4 separate regions of the Homo sapiens genome follow, and all the other regions are reported to be linked to region 1. The links are microRNA targets in miRTarBase. Many come from high-throughput screens and were not tested one by one. Region 1 holds a microRNA gene; each other region holds the end of a gene's coding sequence.

Region 1 (4,000 bases):
TCCGTATCGAGGCCGTATCAGCTCTGCGGCCCCAGTACTGGGAAGCTACCCCTCGCCCCCTCAACCTCCTTCGTAGGGTTACGGGGAGTCTCCCTTGAGACAATGGGTATGGGTTTTAGGTCATAGATCACAGCTGCTTTTGGGGCAAAGGCCCTGGGGATCATTTTCGAGCAGTGGGCAGTCTCTCAGCGAGACCCTAAGGGAAGGAGTGAGACCTGGGAGGAGCAGGCATTGCTCACACGGCCCATCCCCTCCCCCAGCCCAAACAGTTCCGGAAGATGATCCAGCAGACCTTCCAGCAGTACGCCTCGCTCAGGGAGGAGGAGTGCGTCATGAAGTTCTTCAACACTCTCGCCGGCTTCGCCAACATCGACCAGGAGACCTACCGCTGTGAACTCATTGTAATGGCGGGCTCTCTTGATCCTCTCCCTGACCTGGATTCCAGGCCTCTCGGAAAAGGGGGCCAGGAGGGGGCAGGGAGAGGCTGCAATCGCTGCAGATTCTCACTCAGGCAGCAGGACCTCGCTGACCTGCCGTCGGTGGAAGTCAAAAGCATCCCCTTGCCTGAAGCAGGCACTGAAATGTTGGCCTCCAGCTCTGGGAGGTGGGCAGGACAGGCAAGGTGTCAGGAGGGGAAGATCCATATGGCCAGGGTTTCGGTGAGAAGGAGCTGGAGACCCAGGAAACAGTGGCTTGTGTCTAGCTTAGGGAGCTTTTCTTCAAGTTTCTGAAGAATGGGGAGGACAGCTCTGGAACAACAGTCCACTCTCCTTTTATTCCAGCAAGGATGGAACATTACTGTGGACCTGGTCATTGGCCCTAAAGGGATCCGCCAGCTGACTAGTCAGGACGCAAAGGTAGAGAGACCCGGGGCAGCCCCACCCAGCCCCAGGCGGGGAGGTCGTCCCCTCTCTGCTGCCTCCCGCCCTGTCTGCCCCTTCAGTTCTTCTTGCCCCTGTTGCTGAAAGCAGAGTTCTTCTAAGGCCATGCCCTGGCGTGAGCAGCAGTGGAGAGCATTTAGAGATGGCAGCATGGGACAGATGGCCCTTTACATCCCTGTGACTGTCATCTGCACAGAGGTGGTGGGAGGGGGAGACAAGGCCTCAATGATTACTCGCAGAGCTCAGCAGTGTTGCTCTTTCAGTGACAATATAAGGCATGATTCCCTTGGAAGTCAGGGGACCTGGGTCCAGTCCTGGCTCCACTGCCAGCTTGGCACATGATGTTGAGCAAGTCCTGGCTTTCTCTAGACCTCATTTTCTCCTTGGCATAGGGAGGGGCTTGGTCTAGATCAAGCCTGTGGTCCCAGGATGGCTTTGAATGCAGCCCACCACAAATTCGTAAACTTTCTTAAAACATGTTGAGATTTTTTTGTGCGATTTTTTTTTTTACCTTCATCAAGTAGTGTTAGTGTATTTTATGTGTGGTCCAAGACAATTCTTCTTCCAATGTGGCCCAGGGAAGCCAAAAGATTGGACACCCCTGAACTAGAGGATCCTTCTAGCCTTAATAGTGTTTGATTCTCTCTTCATCTCCCAGAGAAACTCCCAGTTCCTCCTCACCCCGGCTCCCCCATACTGACCAATCTGCATGGCCTAGTCCTGGTAGTGGGATGGTCTGAAGCTCCCCCTTCTTTTCCCACAGCCCACCTGCCTGGCCGAGTTCAAGCAGATCAGGTCCATCAGGTGCCTCCCGCTGGAGGAGGGCCAGGCAGTACTTCAGCTGGGCATTGAAGGTGCCCCCCAGGTGAGTGTCTCTGGGCACTGGGCACCTGGCAGCTCTGCAGGGGGTATAATGGCAGATTGGGAGCTCTTGCTCAGACCAAAAGTCTGTGACACACAGGAAGCCAGGAGCTTCCTGGCTTTGGGGATCGTGTTAAGAAAACTGCACCAAGTTCTTAGACAAAAGGTACCAGGATGATGATAAATTGTAGGAAAATTCGGGAAACAATTTTTTTAATGTCAGGAGAAGAAATTGGGAAGGTTTTCAGGTAGTGGAATGTTCAAGGTGACCAGAAATCAGGTATAAATCACAGGCCTAAGTTATACCAAGAGAACAAGGATGCGGACATCAAGACCTCAAAAACATGGGTTTTTTTGTTTGTTTGTTTGTTTGTTTTTTACAGTAAAACACCCAGAGAGACCTCAGGCTGCATCTCTCTCTCCTTTCACCCATCTGTGCCCTGCCCCATTGCCTCCCCTTCCTCTTTCTTTCTTTCTTTCTTTTTTTTAGACAAAGTCTCACTCTGTCACCCAGGCTACAGTGCAGTGGTGCAATCTCAGCTCACTGTAACCTCCACCTCCACAGTTCAAGAGATTCTCCTGCCTCAGCCTCCTGAGTAGCTGGGACTACAGGTGCATGCCACAAGGCCCAACTAATTTTTGTACTTTTAGTAGACACAGGGTTTCACCATGTTGGCCAGGCTGGTCTCAAACTCCTGACCTCAGGTGATCTGCCTGCCTCGGCCTCCTAAAGTGCTGGGATTATAGGCATGAGCCACTGTGCCCAGCCCCCTCTTCCATTTTCTCAGTTTCTGCTTCTATTTATTGAGCACCTACTAGGTACCAGGCATCGTGCTATGTGCTCAGAGGCCAAAATAAGTGAGGCCTGGGACTGGCCTTTGGAGAGCATGGGCGTACAGGTGAAAGGGGTGACAGAGTGCAGTCTGGACTCCAGGGCAGGGCCCCAGGAGAGGTGCAGACAGCATTGGCATCCAGGCAAGGGTTGTGGCAGGGGTCCTGCCATCTCTTCTCCAGCCCTGGGGGTGGTCTCTAGCCAAGGCTCTGGGGTCTCACCCTTGGCTGGTCTCTGCTCCGCAGGCCTTGTCCATCAAAACCTCATCCCTAGCAGAGGCTGAGAACATGGCTGACCTCATAGACGGCTACTGCCGGCTGCAGGGTGAGCACCAAGGCTCTCTCATCATCCATCCTAGGAAAGGTGGGTTCCATTTAAAGGTAAAGTGGCTGGACCACGGGTGGCAGCACACCCGAGTCCCCAGAGGCGGAGTGGCAGAAGCTAAGCCACTGATGGATAAGTGAATGAGGATTCTTCCCCCACAGCCCAGCGGGAAGCTTCCAGTGGGCCCATCTTAGGCTTTAAGCCCTGGCCGGTCCACCTACCCACAGCCCTGCTAATCAAGGTCCACATAGAGGCAGCTTCTGGAGGAGAGGCGTTTTAGCCCCAGCAAGCTCAAAGCCATTGCTAGTAGAAGGCTGGTCCCGCCTGTGTGTGTCTCCATCTTGGGTCAGATTCAGGAAGCAGGGGTCACAGCTGGAGCACGTGAAATCTGGCCTGAGGCAGCCTCCAAGGAGGATTCCACTTCTGGCCCAAGGCCTCACTAGCTCCCAGGCTAGGAGAGAATGGAATTAGGGGCTGGGATGGGAGGAGAGTCCCTTGTAGGAATAGTGAGGAGGTCAGTCACCCATCCAGGTCCCTGTGTCCCCAGCTCCAACCTCCTCCTTCCTCCTCTCTTCCTAGATGGTGAGAAGCGGAACAGCCTGCCCCAGATCCCCATGCTGTGAGTACAATGGGGTGCAGAGGACAGGGCCCTGAGCTCAGCCTGTGCTGCTGAGAGGAATAAGAATAAACTGGGAGTCCCCACCTCCATAGTTTCTGGCTTTCAGGCCCAGGAGAACCCTGAAAAAAGATGATCTTTCCCTCCCAATAAATACCTGCAGGAATATTCCTATGCCTTCATGCCACCTGGTGTTATCCTGGGGGGTTGCTGCTGTCCCCCAACTCCAGCCCCCAGCAGCCTGGGCTGTGCTCCCAGGTCATTGCTAATTTGGACAGACTACTTCTCCACAGGGGGCAGGAGGAGAGGGCGGGCCGAGGCTGCCCAGGGGAACATTACCGGCCTCTGAGCTCACCTGGCTTCTGCTCTCTCACCTCCTACAGAAACCTGGAGGCCCGGCGGTCCCACCTCTCAGAGAGCTGCAGCATAGGTGAGCTGCCCGCTGCATCCTCCACCTGCTCCAGTTGCCTCCCGTCTGCTTGCTCC
Region 2 (4,209 bases), not on the chromosome of region 1:
TGGCTGATGGGTATGTAGTGTGGGGGCAGGAAGGGCGTGCAGGTGTGGTCACTCGTGGCCTCCCCGTCTCCAGCGTTCCAGTTCTCCTACACAGCTGTCTTCGGTGCCTACACTGCTTTCCTCTTCATCCGCACAGGTTGGTCCTCAGTCCCTCATGGGTCCCTGGGGGCCCACAGGAGCGGGTGGGAGAATGGGAATACTGTTTGTTCTAGGAACAAAAGTTCTTCTACTCCAGTCCTTGAGACAGGCTGAGCCAGAGCCCTCAGCCTGGTGAGGTCTGAGAGGTGGAAAGGAGCAGAGGCCGTGGTGTGTGGGTGGATGGCTGGGGTAGTGGGATCTTGATCTCCTGTTTCAGGGGATGAGGGTCACTAGCCCTGGAAGGGCCAGAGGAGGTGGTAGGGCTGCTCCCTGAGCTGCTGTCTCTTTTCCCCAGGACACCTGATTGGGCCGGTTCTCTGCCATTCCTTCTGCAATTACATGGGTTTCCCAGCTGTTTGCGCGGCCTTGGAGCACCCACAGAGGCGGCCCCTGCTGGCAGGCTATGCCCTGGGTGTGGGACTCTTCCTGCTTCTGCTCCAGCCCCTCACGGACCCCAAGCTCTACGGCAGCCTTCCCCTTTGTGTGCTTTTGGAGCGGGCAGGGGACTCAGAGGCTCCCCTGTGCTCCTGACCTATGCTCCTGGATACGCTATGAACTCTCACCGGCTCCCCAGCCCTCCCCACCAAGGGGTACTGCAGGGGAAGGGCTGGCTGGGGTCCCCGAGATCTCAGGAATTTTTGTAGGGGATTGAAGCCAGAGCTAGTTGCGTCCCAGGGACCAAGAGAAAGAAGCAGATATCCAAAGGGTGCAGCCCCTTTTGAAAGGGGTGTTTACGAGCAGCTGTGAGTGAGGGGACAAGGGGCAGGTCCCAGGAGCCACACACTCCCTTCCTCACTTTGGACTGCTGCTTCTCTTAGCTCCTCTGCCTCTGAAAAGCTGCTCGGGGTTTTTTATTTATAAAACCTCTCCCCACCCCCCACCCCCCAACTTCCTGGGTTTTCTCATTGTCTTTTTGCATCAGTACTTTGTATTGGGATATTAAAGAGATTTAACTTGGGTAACATGGCCTTGGGCCTTTGGGAATCGGTCTATTTGGGATCTTGTGTGAAGACTCTAGGCAGCTCTTGGGAGTGTGCCCACCACCTGTCCCAGCTACCTTGAACACTGACATCTGGGCGGTGCATCCAGGCGGGTAGTTCCCTGGAGTACAGGATGGGCTGGGAGCTCTGGTTGCTGGGAGCCTGTGGCTTCCTCCTTCCTGAACCATGCCCCAAAGTCCTAGTGTGGTTGGCTCTGAGACTGCAGGTACCAGGTGTGAGCCCAGCTCATCCTGGGGCCTGTGCCTTGGCTGACGGGTCAGGGAGTGGGAACCATGGCCCTGGCCCTGACCTCAGCGATGGAGCCTCCGACGTATCTCCTCTGAGGGGAAGATGACTGGCCTGAAGCCTCTGCCAGGACCTCCACAGTCTGCCAGTCTTGTTTTTCACAAGAGGAAATAGGTCCCTGAGTCACCATAAGTAGAGGCTTTTCTGGTTCTCTCCACCTCTGACCTCTGCCCCAGAGGAACCCAGAACACAGGCTGCAGCCCTGAGGGCAGCAGGGACTTTGCCAAGCAACACAGTGACTCCAGGGTCCTTCTCGGCACCTGCAAGTGTTCTGCCTGCTCTCCATCATTTTTGGAAGGGCTCTCGTTTCCCTGCCTGTGCTCTTTTAAAATTAGATTCCTGAAAGAGTATTAGCCCTGGATTACTTGAGGTCAGGAGTCCGAGACCAGCCTGACCAACATGGTGAAACCCGTCTCTACTAAAAATACAAAAAATTAGCCGGGCATAGGCGGGGCGTGGTGGCAGGAGGCTAAGGCAGGACAATCACTTGAACCTGGGAGGCACAGATTCCAGTGAGCCAAAATCACACTACTGTACTCCAGCCTGGGTGACAGAGCGAGACTCCATCTCCGGGGTGGGGGGCAGGGGGGGCGGGGGAGGGAAGAAAGCCCTTTAGGTCCCATTCCCCAATCAAGGAGGTTGTCCCAAGGTCCCTTCTCTGAGGCTGGCCACTGAGGGAAAAAGGATGTGCGGTCACTCCCCCACGATGCCTGCAGGCTGGCCATGACAACGACATCCACCCGGATGGAAGGGGCAGCATCGCAGTCATCTGCCTCCTGGGGTACATCTAGGACATGGCGGTCCAGAAAGGAAGAGGCTCAAGCCCACTGTGAGTTGCCCATCCCAGAGGTTGGACTGGCTCTGGGAGCACTGGGCAGAGGCCTGCTGGGTGCTTCCCATCCAGAGGCTGATTTCCTGCATCGGCCTCCCCACACCCACCCCTCCATCTCAGGAACTGCCCAGCCTCCTGCTCCCTTCACCATCCTCTCCCTACCTGTGGGCAGGTGGGCAGGAGGGCAGTGGTGCAGGCAGGGTTACTGTCCCCACTGCAGGAAAGGGAACTGAGCAGGAGTCTGGAGGGGTGGTCATGGGGAGTGGCAGGGTTAGAACCTGAGACCCTGGACCCGGTGCTCCCCCTCACCTCCCACCAACATTCTCACATCCAGAGCACACACAAGACTCCCGGATCACCATTCCCGAGGGTCTTACCCACTGCCCACAAGGTGGTACCTGCTTGCATTTACCTGCTAACTGAGGTGGGACGCTGGCCTTGGGTTTTAGAAAATAAAGCAGCGGGGTTGGGAGGCGAGTCTGCCAACGGCCTGGGTTTCATCTCTCTCTCTTACTACTTGTGAAGTCCTGGACAAATTATTTAATCTTCCTGTGACTTGATTTCTGTGTCCATAAGAGGATGAAGGTTAATTCCCTGTGTTAATAGGTGTTAAATACTTAGAACAGGCCCCACCCCTCAAGCAAGTTCAGTACTACTAGTCCTGTTTGGGGAGTATACACAGTAGGCACCCAATAGTGACTTAAAACAGGGCCACGATGGTCATTCTCACTACCCTCTGAGGAGAACGACACAACTGACCTGCCCACCCATGGGGAGCTTGAAAGGCAGCCCCCCACTGCTGAGTGGTGCAGGCTGGGGGCTGCACAGGATCCAGCATGGAGGGCAGGGGAAAGCCAGCTTTATTGAGTAAACTTCCCAGGACCTGGGACATCTTAGATCTCCCCTTCCCCCAGGAGATAGGACCCCTAAACCTCCCCTGGGTCCTAGGACCACCTGACCCACCACTTGTAGTCTCCAGTGAGGAGGGGACCCTTATTTGGCAAGAGATGAACATGTAAGCAGCTGTCCGCCGGAGGAAAGGACGATGGCTGAAAGGAATGAACCACCGCAGGCGGTGTCTCTCCTGTCCAGCTGTGGACAGGACCTCCACGGCCCGGCCTTCCTGGCCTCGGGCACTGGCTGGCCTGGGCCTGCCGTGGCAGCACAGCTTCTGTTGAAGGCTTGGGGATGGCCAGGCTGCCGGTCTGGGGCAAGATCACTCGATCTCCAGGATGAGGTCGTCACCTTCCAGTGTCATGTCCTTGGTCACATGAACCTTGCGGACAGTACCCTCCATGGGTGAGGTCACCACAGTCTCCATCTTCATGGCACTGAGCACACACAGGGGCTGGCCCTTGGCCACCTTGGCCCCTGCCACCACTTTGATGTCTATCACCTTCCCAGGCATGGGCGCCCCGATCTGGCCCTTCACGTCCTTTAGGGCCTTGGGGTGGAAGTGCATCTCCTGAAGACACAGGGCAGAGGGGACATGACATCCTGGGCCCAGCCAAGCCCCACCGCCTGGCTGGCCCTGGGGGAGACAATACCTTCATGGCCTGGGTGTCCTTGACCAAGATGGACCGCAGCTGCCCATTGAGCTCAAAGAAGACCTGCCTCTGGCCGGCCCGGTTCAGGTCGCTCACGGCCAGGGCTTTGATGTGCAGCGTCTTGCCCCGCTCCAGCTCCACCTGCAGGGAGGGTGTGCAGACTCAGAGCTGGACGCCAAGGTGGGAGAGCAGTCCCCCGGCCCTGGCCATAGGAAGTCCCCACACTGGGCCTTGGCTCCTCGTTCCTAAAGGCCTAGCTCCCGGTCTCAAGGGTCCTTTCTGCTCCCAAAGCTTGCGAGGCTGGGTGACAGCCAAGCTAAACTCCAGAGCTCTGGGGCAGGGGGCCAGGGTGGAGTGTGGAGAAGCGCCAGAGCCACTGACCTCAAACTCCTCTGCGATCTTGGGT
Region 3 (4,197 bases), not on the chromosome of region 1:
CAGGAGAGTAGTACATGCTTCGGGGCAGGGGTTCCACACTCAGTGCTGCAGTACCTTGCACCTTCCATCTGACCTGCCTGGGCCCCAGCAGGAGCAGGGGATGGGCATGGGACGTCCTGACCCCAGTTGGGAGGGTGAAGGGACAGGAAGGACAGGACATATCTGAGGAAGCCTCGGGGCTCTCTCTTCCCCTAGATTTCCTGGACCTACGCCTTGGGCAAGCAGCCGGTCAGTTTCTACCAGCTCCTGTTACAGGAGGTGGCCAAGACACAGGAGAATGAGTTGCCCGAGGCAAAGAATCGTCCATGGATCTTCAACAAGATTTTGGGCACTACTGTCAAGCTGATGGAGCTAAAGCCTAACACGTGTTACTGCCTCAGTGTCCGTGCAGCCAACACAGCTGGGGTGGGGAAGTGGTGCAAGCCCTACAAAGTGAGCCCTGGGAAAAGAGGGGCCTTGGGGGTGGAGAGAAGTCCAAAGCCAGGGAACCAGGGCTTTGGAGGTTGGGAACACCCCTATGCCCACATGACTCATCTGGCTAGCTTTCCTTCTGCCTGGGTCAAGAAGCATCAATTCCAGAATGCATGCTTCTGGGAGGTTTAAGGATTAAGCCACTCTGGGGCCCACTAGGAATGCAAACGAATGTATTTTTCAACATCACTATAATGTTCCCCTTCCAAAGCCATTGGTTTTTAGACTCTGCAATTCAGTGCCCATGATTGTGAGTAGGCTGGGAAGTCAAGGGCATTGAAAGAAATAGGGAAGACAAGAGGCTAAAGGGGGACGAAGAAGGGAACAGCCTGGGTATGGGGTAGGGGTATGGGGGTATAGAGGCCTGAGTACAGACAGCCCTTTGGTTGGAAATATCCCATAATGAGGAGGTACAGGCTTGAGTCATGCATCTTTGCACCTGTTTCCTGCGTCAATGGCTAGGTTGGATAAGGCTGTTTAAGGTCTGAGTCAGCAGACAGAAAAAAAAGGGGTGATAGAGACAGAGAGAGAGCCAGGTTCAGATCTGGGAAGGAACTCTGAAGGGTTTTCTTGTTTCACTTCAGTTTGCAACCCTGGCCACTGACTTCAGCAGCTTTCCTGAGAACTACCCCATCCAGATCACCGTGCGGCGCAAGGAACCCCGGCAAAAGATCGTGTCCATCGGGCCGGAGGAGATGCGGAGGCTGGAGGATCTGGAATACCTATTTCCCTGTTAAGGGGGAGGGCCCCAGGACACCCCTCACCTACTTTCAGCTTCAACCCCAGGCCCTCAGAAACCAGAGCCATGAGACCTACCATACCACCAGCACCCTGCGGGCCCGGGGTCTGGCAGAGTGGTATGGGCACCCCACCCCTGGGCTGGGGCCAAGGCTACATAGGGGCCCCATTCACCTGGAGGCATCTCAGGCCAGGCCATGCCAGGCTCAGCCACTGCCCACAGCTGCTAGACTCCCTCCTCCTCCAAATCTGGGCTGGGTCTAGGTCCCTCATTAAAGAACTGCAGGTCATCCAGCACCCTAAAGTCTGCTTTATGCTGCAGACAGCCTCAGATGGGCTGGCTGGCACCCACCTCCTAGCTTCCACCAGGACAGAGTCTACATGGGTGGGGAGATAGAAAACAGGCAGCTAGGCAATAGGATGCTGCCATCACCCCTTCCCCAGTGGGGCGGGGTAGGGGAACAGGGAGACTGGTGCTCTAAGACTAAAAGGCTCTTACACCAGAAAAATACAGAAATAGCTGTCATGGACAGACGTGGTGGCCCATGAACTGTCAAACTAGCTTGAGCTCTGGACGGAGGGATGTGGTACAAAGTGCACAATAAGCTTTGGGGCAGGGCCTGGTTTAATCCCAGCTTTCTCTTACTAGATGTGAGGGCATGGGCTAATCATTTCTTATGTTGTTTCCTCATCAAAAGTTTTGGAGCTTGAGAACCTTCCAGGCCTGGTGCAGTCTGAGAGCACAGCAGACAAACAGCTGGCACCAAGGAGCTCAGTGGCTGATAGTTTTGTTCGCTTCTTATGTAGCCTCACTGCAGATATGTGCAAGGTGGAGGCCAAGCACCACAGCTAGGTGACGCGCAAAACCCAAAAGCACAGACAAGGGTGGAGGAGGGTAAGAAGGAGCAAGATGCTAGTTCTGAGCAGTTTATACAAGGATGGTTTGGAAATCCAATCTGAGTAGTTCAGACCATGACCCTGCTTAGCATGGGATGCAGGAGAAAGCAGAGGCAGGGTACATTCAGGGCAAGATCTCGGCCTGGGGTCTGAGTCCTGATGGGAATTCCTTTCACTGCTTGAAAGTTCTCGTGGCAAAGAACTTCCTCTGTATCAACAATACCCACTTCTGCTCAGAGCTCATACTGCTGCCTCCCCATCTGAGGGAATCCTCTGGAAGAGCCATCACCTTCCCCGCTCTATCCCATGGGCCCAGGGCAGTGCTTGGTGCCTGGCAGGGCCTCAAGCAGTGTGCTATGCGAAGGCAGAGGCATCCCCTGGAGCAGGGCTGACCAGCAGAACTCTCTTGATGATGAAAACCTTTCTGTGTGCTGTCCAATACTGGAGGCCTTACCCAGTGCGATGGAGGAACTGCACTTCTATTTCATGCCAGCAGTCACATGTGGCCGGTGCCTACTGCAGTGGACAACAATACAGCCCTAGATTCTCCTTGGCCACTATCACAACTGGCCTCTCTCTTACCAACACGGGGGAAGAGAGGGAAGGCAAGTGCCTGGTCAGTGTGGTTTTGGCGTAGTCCAGTGCAAGGGCGGGGGCTGGACAATCTCATTTAGCACAGTCCTTGATTGAGTCATGGGGATTCTAGGACAAGGAATTAGAACCCAACACACAAAACTTAAGTTACTTATTTGGTCATAGAACCTGGGATCTGACCCTGTACAGAGCTGACACTAGGGGCCCACTCATAGAGCCTGGCTGCCCACCACCCCTGTCTGTACCAGCAAGGTACAGAGTAGCAGACACGGGCCAAGTTCAGTGACAACTTCCTGTGACCTTCGATTTCTGGCTCTGGGGTGTGCCACAGGCGGGGATCTGTGGGAAAACCCCATTCCGGTCTATCGAGGACAGCAGGCCACACGCATTCTCAGGTCCCCACTGGTGGGGAGGGTGTGTGCACTGCCATCTCAGCCTTTGTTCTCTGGCAGGGAAGGCAGCTGGCAGAGGCCGAGTCGAGGTGGGGGTCAGAGAGAACTTCGGGCCGTCTCATCTCCTCCATCTGTGGAGAAGGGAAGGGTGTCAGGATGGGGATTCCACCTTAGGAAAGGGAGGCCGTCATATAATCCCAGTGTCAACAGACGGACGGCCTGTGGTCCACCCTCAGAGTCACCAAGAGCCAGGTGACCGTCCCTGCTCTGCCCACCCAAACTCAGGCTGCCCACTCACTGCCTGCTGCCACCAGGACCTCCACCCAGGGCCTGGCCCTCGGGATGCCCACCAGCAAACAGTCACAATCCCTTATAAGCACACAACACTTTGTCTTCCAGAGTGTTGACCCTCCTATTTTTGATCCTGTCTGTGAAGGTTTGATAATTCCCAAGAGACTGATTAACCAAGTTCTCTGTGATTACTCCATGGCAGAACCAGGATTTGAACTCAGGTCTTGCGACTCTGAAGTCTAGTGACAGAAAGACCTGGATGCGCCCTCTACAAGGTGTCCTGTGGCCCCTGTTGTTCCGGTGGCCCTCCCACTTGCCCACTGACAGAAAGACCTGGACGCGCCCTCTACGAGGTGTCCTGTGGCCTCTGTTGTTCCGGTGGCCCTCCCACTTGTGGCCCTCCCACTTGCCCACTGAGAATCTGGCTCCACACGCCTCCTCAAGACAGTCTGAGCACCTGGACGGCCCTGCGGAATTCTATGCTGTAAGGGAAAGTGTGCACAGAAGGACCTTAGGGGTAGGAGGGCTGTGTATGCCAACCACCACTTCCCCCACACTCACATCCGGAGGCATTTGTCCTTCCCACCACTTGCCACTCTCTGGCCATCTGGACTCCAGTCAACAGCATATACCTAAAGGGAGGCAGAGGAAGGCAGGTGGGGTGGTGAGAGGGAGACAGCCAGCCAGGCTCCAATCCCAGTCCCTCCTTTGCCTGAGGGTTGGCCCTACCTCATCCGCGTGGCCGGGCAGGTCCATGGCCAGCTTCTGGGCCTTCACATCCCACACCTTCAGTGTGCTGTCACTGCTGCCGCTG
Region 4 (4,209 bases), not on the chromosome of region 1:
ACCCTGTGGTGGGCAAGTGGGTGGAGTCTGGCAGCTGCCCACAGAGGGCCGAGGGTCACCCGTCGGCCGCCGCCACCCCAGGCGAGGCCGGAGGAAGGATCATCTGAGACGCAGGAGGCATCTGCTGGAGCAGCAATTTCCCAATTTATTGAAAGTGATCGCTTTGCAAGGATGTCTAAGCTAATCCCGTCACAGAAAGGAAACGCACAGGCGCCTAGGCAGAAACTTGGAGACTCACCGCAGAGGCCACGTGAACCCACGGCCACAGAGAGGCAGGACGGCAGAGCCATGATTTCCCACCGAGCGATTACGAGAACCTCTTCCCCCAATAGTAGACACATCTCCAATACAAACACAGGTTTATAATAAGTAATAGGAAGTCAATATAATATAGATTATCCCCAGAAAAAAATCAACAATCTTCAAACACTGCCCTTTTTTTGTGTGTTTTGTTTTTGTTGACAGGTTGAAAGCATGTTGAAAAAAATAAATATTTAAGAAAAGCACACACAGCACCCTCACTACAAGTAGTTCTAAAAGGGCTGCATACAAAACACAATATAAGATCTAAAAAAAACCACCACCATTAAGTATGGCTTTCTTAAGAGTCGCACATGTCACAGAATGAGCTAAAATAAGATTACTTCTTTTATAATATTGCAAAAAGTTCCAGTTTTTGCATTTTCTCAGTTTTTTAAAGAGGAAGATGTGCAAAGTTGGAAGCAGTAAGCTGCGTCTTCTGAGTCAGTTCCCTACGTAGCCCTGGCAGTGTCCTGTGTCCCAAAGCTCAGAGAGCCCCAGTGTACAACCTGGTCAGGATCCAGAGCTTGACAGAAAAATCGTGGTGTCCCTGCCCCCTCCCCGCCCCCAAATAACACCATCCCCAATGGACTGTATTTCCCACTTTGGTGTTGTAAACACCAAAATACAAACAGACACAAACAAAAATACAAAATGTGAAATGTAATCTACACATTTTTCCTCTTCATAAAAAAATATTTATTAGTTTGAACATCGATTTAAAAAAAAATCAGTCACATAAAAAAAACCCTTCATGACATGTCTTTTCCCTCCACGCCTCCTGAGATGGACGTGCTCACCTGGGCCTCGGAAATCCCACACTCTTCAGTCGGCAAACTGCGAACAAGAACAGGAAATCTGCCACGCAGCAAACACTTGGGGAGGTCAGTGGGACACTGTTGGTTTTAGGGAAGAAAATGCCCCTGTAGCTCCGGCGGGGAACCCCAAAACGGTCAGCAAAGGCAGGCCACACGGAGTGAGCCGGCCAGATGGAGCAGGACATCCTGAGTGTGGAGGGGGAGGCGGGCCTGGGTCCTGGGCAGGGTGGCCTGAGAGCAGGGACTGGTACAAAACCCAGAGACATTGGTGGGTAGCAAAGGTCTGGTTTCCAAATGCATTTTGTAAGAAAGTCAGTCTGTTTAGAAAAAGGGTTTAAAAATCAGGGGAAAGGTACAAAGTTCTGAGAATTCTCAAAGAGGCCGGGGTGGGGCTGGCCTGGGGTGAGGGCTGGAGGGCTCCGCTGCAGCTCCCTGGTAGCCATGCTCTCCCCCTGGGGGACTCGTGCCAGAGCCACCCACCTTGCTCGGTAAGAGTGGGCAGGGCTCACCGCTGAGGGGCCAGCGCTTGGCCCGGCTCCTATCCCCACACTCCGTGTGCAGAAAAATCTTGGCCTCTTTCTCCAGCTTTGAGGAGCCCACAGCCTCCGAGCTGAGGGGTGTGTGTGATGACAGCTCCAGCCAGGGCACCCTGTCATTGGTAGAACCGGGGGCCAATGTCAAAAAACAAAAGCCGTGACTCCTGCGCTGTACCTGGAGTCCTCCATGTACTCCTCCACAGGACCCCCGGCCAGCCCCAGCCCTCCCCGAGCAGCAGCGGTCAGGGAAGCTGGTGCTCTACCTGACAATGTGGGGAAAAGCCTGGTATACAGGCTAGAAAAAGAGAGTAAAAACTCTTTCCACGCAGCCCTGAAGCTCAGCACTCCGGGGGGTCTTCACACGGGCAGGTCCTGGAGGGAAGGAGGAGGCCACCGCGCCCACCTCCCATCTGAAGGCACAGCACCGCAGTGGTGGCCTGTGCCAGAGGAGGGGGTGAAGGATGGAATGTCCTCATGGTGAGTGCTGTCAGAGGCAGGCCTGAACGAGAAGACAGGCCGTGGCAACGGTCCCGAGGCTGTGAGTCTAGGCAGCCTGCCTCCGGGACCCCCAAAGCCAGGCGGTGCACCACAGCACACACCGTGGGACCTTTGCTTTTCACTCAGGAAAAGAAAGAACATGTGAGTGCTTCTGAAAACACAGCAAGAGGACTTGAGCACAAGCTAAAGGAAAAACAACCCTATATAGTTTCTTCGAGTGAGAAAAATAATGCCAAACAAAATAATTTTATGTAACTACCTCGATATGTCTCTGACTACTTAAAAATTTGGTTACCCACGCGGGGAGGTGTAAGCAGCACACTGCAGTTAGGAACACCGCCTCCAGTGTTAGCAGCAAAGGCAGGAGCCCAGCTCCAGCCCGTCCAGGAGGGGTCAGCAGGAGCGGCCGGGCTGGGCCATGGGCAGAACAGGACGGGCAGAGCCCGGGGTGGACGTGGCAGCCCAAGGCTCTCCGAGGAAGTGCACACGACTGAGCCGAGGCCCTTGCAGAGGGAACCTGGTGTGGCCTGAAGTGGTGGGGGGCACAGGGCTGAGGGTCCCCTCCTGGAAGGAGCCCCCAGGGCTGTGTCCACCTAAGATAGCACCTGGAGCCCTCGGCCTCCAGCAGGGTCTGCAGCTGTGTTGTGTGTTAAGCACCAAAGCCCAGAGGTAAGACGGTGGCAGGGCTCTCTGTGCACCTGGATTCTACAGGCTGCCATGGGCCACGGCTGCACCACGGGCCACGGCTGCAGCCACAGGCAGTGACCTGGCTGCTAGGGGAGGGGAGGGCGGGCTCCAGCCGGGCTGACCGGGTGTCTGTAAAACTCTGCACCTGCTCAGGCCAGGGGCCTCTGGGCCGAACACACCACCCCGCCCAGTGCCCACTGGACCCGGCCACAGGCCCATCACGTGTCCAAGCCAGGCTGGCCATCACAGGGGCCACTCACACACCCGCACCACCTGCTGGGGACTTAGGACCGTGCTCTCCCTTCACTCAAACCCACCCTGTGCCCTCCCCCAACTCACTTCATGTCTGGTCCCAGAGCACCCCTCTTGCTGGGGTCGCACCTGCTTAGCCCGCAGGGCTGGTTTCCGTGGGGGGTGGGTTCAGGGGGAAGCAGAGGAGGGGCCGCGAGAGGGGTGAGCGTGGCCCTGGCCCCGCAGTGGAGACCCACCGGACACACACACGGGTGGACGGAGCGAGGCAGCCACCGACCCTGCCGGCGGGCGGGCCTAGGAGAGCCAGGCGAAGTCCTTGTCAGGGCCTCCTGGGGGGCTGCGCGGCCGCGGCGAGTCTTCCTCATCCTTGTCGTCCGCCAACAGCGCATCCTCAGGGGCCAGGCCCTCGTCGTCCTCGCCCAGCTCCTCCGCCTCCCCTCGTGGGTCCTCAGGGTCCTCCAGATAGGGCCCGTCGCCTGGGAACAGCGCCTCTGGAGAGCCCTCGCCGCCTCCGCCGCCATGGTCCAGGGGCCCGGCCATGCCGCGGCCAGCACAGTCGGTGCACACACCGTGGCGCCTGGAGCCATGCCTGATGCCCACGCTGGCGGCGGACATGAAGACGCGGCTGCACACCTTGCACACATACTTCTTGTCCTTGCTGTGGACCTGCAGAGGCAGGGCAGGGGGTGAGCAGGGCCTGGTGGGTTGGGGGGCGGGGCAGGGGGTGAGCAGGGCCTGGTGGAGGTGGGGGGGGCAGGTGGTGAGCAGGGCCAGGTGGAGGTTGGAAGAGGGGGCAGGGGGTGAGCAGGGCCTGGTGGAGGTGGGGGGGGCGGGGCAGGGGGTGAGCAGGGCCCGGTGGAGGTTGGGAGGGGGGCCAGGGGGTGAGCAGGGCCTGGTGGGTGGGGGGGGTGCGGGGGTGAGCAGGGCCCGGTTGGGGTTGGGGGGGCACAGCCTCCCGGGCCCTCCGAGTGTCTGCACAGGCAGAGACTCCTGGTGGGGGAGGTGCGCAGACAGGAGTGCTCAGACCTTGAGCCCCAGCTCCTATCAGAGCCACACAGCAGAACTGCAGGTGGCACCAAGGCAGCCCTGTCCCAAGGGGATGCTGGCACGAGGGCGGC

Evidence for each region. The annotated mature microRNA hsa-miR-6842-5p reads UGGGGGUGGUCUCUAGCCAAGG and lies in region 1 at 2,760-2,781, shown strand. An mRNA with a match to its seed (bases 2 to 7 or 8) in the 3' UTR can be bound and repressed. Matches are read on the target gene's strand: a 7mer-m8 pairs with bases 2 to 8, a 7mer-A1 pairs with bases 2 to 7 and ends in A, and an 8mer does both.
Region 2: the mRNA of RCE1 is a reported target of hsa-miR-6842-5p. Seed matches in the 3' UTR shown: 7mer-m8 at 1,010-1,016 and 7mer-m8 at 1,017-1,023.
Region 3: miRTarBase lists NLE1 as a target of hsa-miR-6842-5p. Seed matches in the 3' UTR shown: 7mer-A1 at 3,183-3,189, 7mer-A1 at 821-827 and 8mer at 458-465.
Region 4: the mRNA of ZBTB46 is a reported target of hsa-miR-6842-5p. Seed matches in the 3' UTR shown: 7mer-m8 at 3,250-3,256 and 7mer-m8 at 2,105-2,111.

The regions. Positions count from the first base shown.
Region 1 is chr8:27,430,616-27,434,615 of GRCh38, forward strand. It overlaps MIR6842 (microRNA 6842), which reads left to right and starts at 2,755; the gene lies at 2,755-2,819. PTK2B (protein tyrosine kinase 2 beta) reads left to right here. Exons shown (of 31, transcript NM_173176.3): 8 at 261-401; 9 at 783-857; 10 at 1,645-1,746; 11 at 2,820-2,937; 12 at 3,478-3,517; 13 at 3,898-3,944. RefSeq lists an enhancer at 1-436.
Region 2 is chr11:66,845,427-66,849,635 of GRCh38, forward strand. It overlaps RCE1 (Ras converting CAAX endopeptidase 1), which reads left to right. Exons shown (of 8, transcript NM_005133.3): 7 at 74-136; 8 at 434-1,126. The coding sequence ends at 669. PC (pyruvate carboxylase) reads right to left here. Exons shown (of 23, transcript NM_001040716.2): 21 at 4,185-4,209; 22 at 3,804-3,944; 23 at 2,994-3,721. The coding sequence ends at 3,473. Among named protein-coding and RNA genes, the nearest start is that of RCE1, 4.1 kb to the left of the region's middle.
Region 3 is chr17:35,129,227-35,133,423 of GRCh38, forward strand. NLE1 (notchless homolog 1) reads right to left here. Exons shown (of 13, transcript NM_018096.5): 11 at 4,113-4,197; 12 at 3,945-4,015; 13 at 1-3,223. The coding sequence ends at 3,211. It overlaps FNDC8 (fibronectin type III domain containing 8), which reads left to right. Exons shown (of 4, transcript NM_017559.4): 3 at 196-432; 4 at 1,056-1,506. The coding sequence ends at 1,208. Among named protein-coding and RNA genes, the nearest start is that of FNDC8, 9.7 kb to the left of the region's middle.
Region 4 is chr20:63,743,545-63,747,753 of GRCh38, forward strand. It overlaps ZBTB46 (zinc finger and BTB domain containing 46), which reads right to left. Exons shown (of 5, transcript NM_001369741.1): 5 at 126-3,757. The coding sequence ends at 3,386. SLC2A4RG (SLC2A4 regulator) reads left to right here. Exons shown (of 8, transcript NM_020062.4): 8 at 1-506. ZBTB46-AS2 (ZBTB46 antisense RNA 2) reads left to right here and starts at 281. Exons shown (of 3, transcript NR_186425.1): 1 at 281-1,184; 2 at 1,984-2,131; 3 at 2,279-2,407.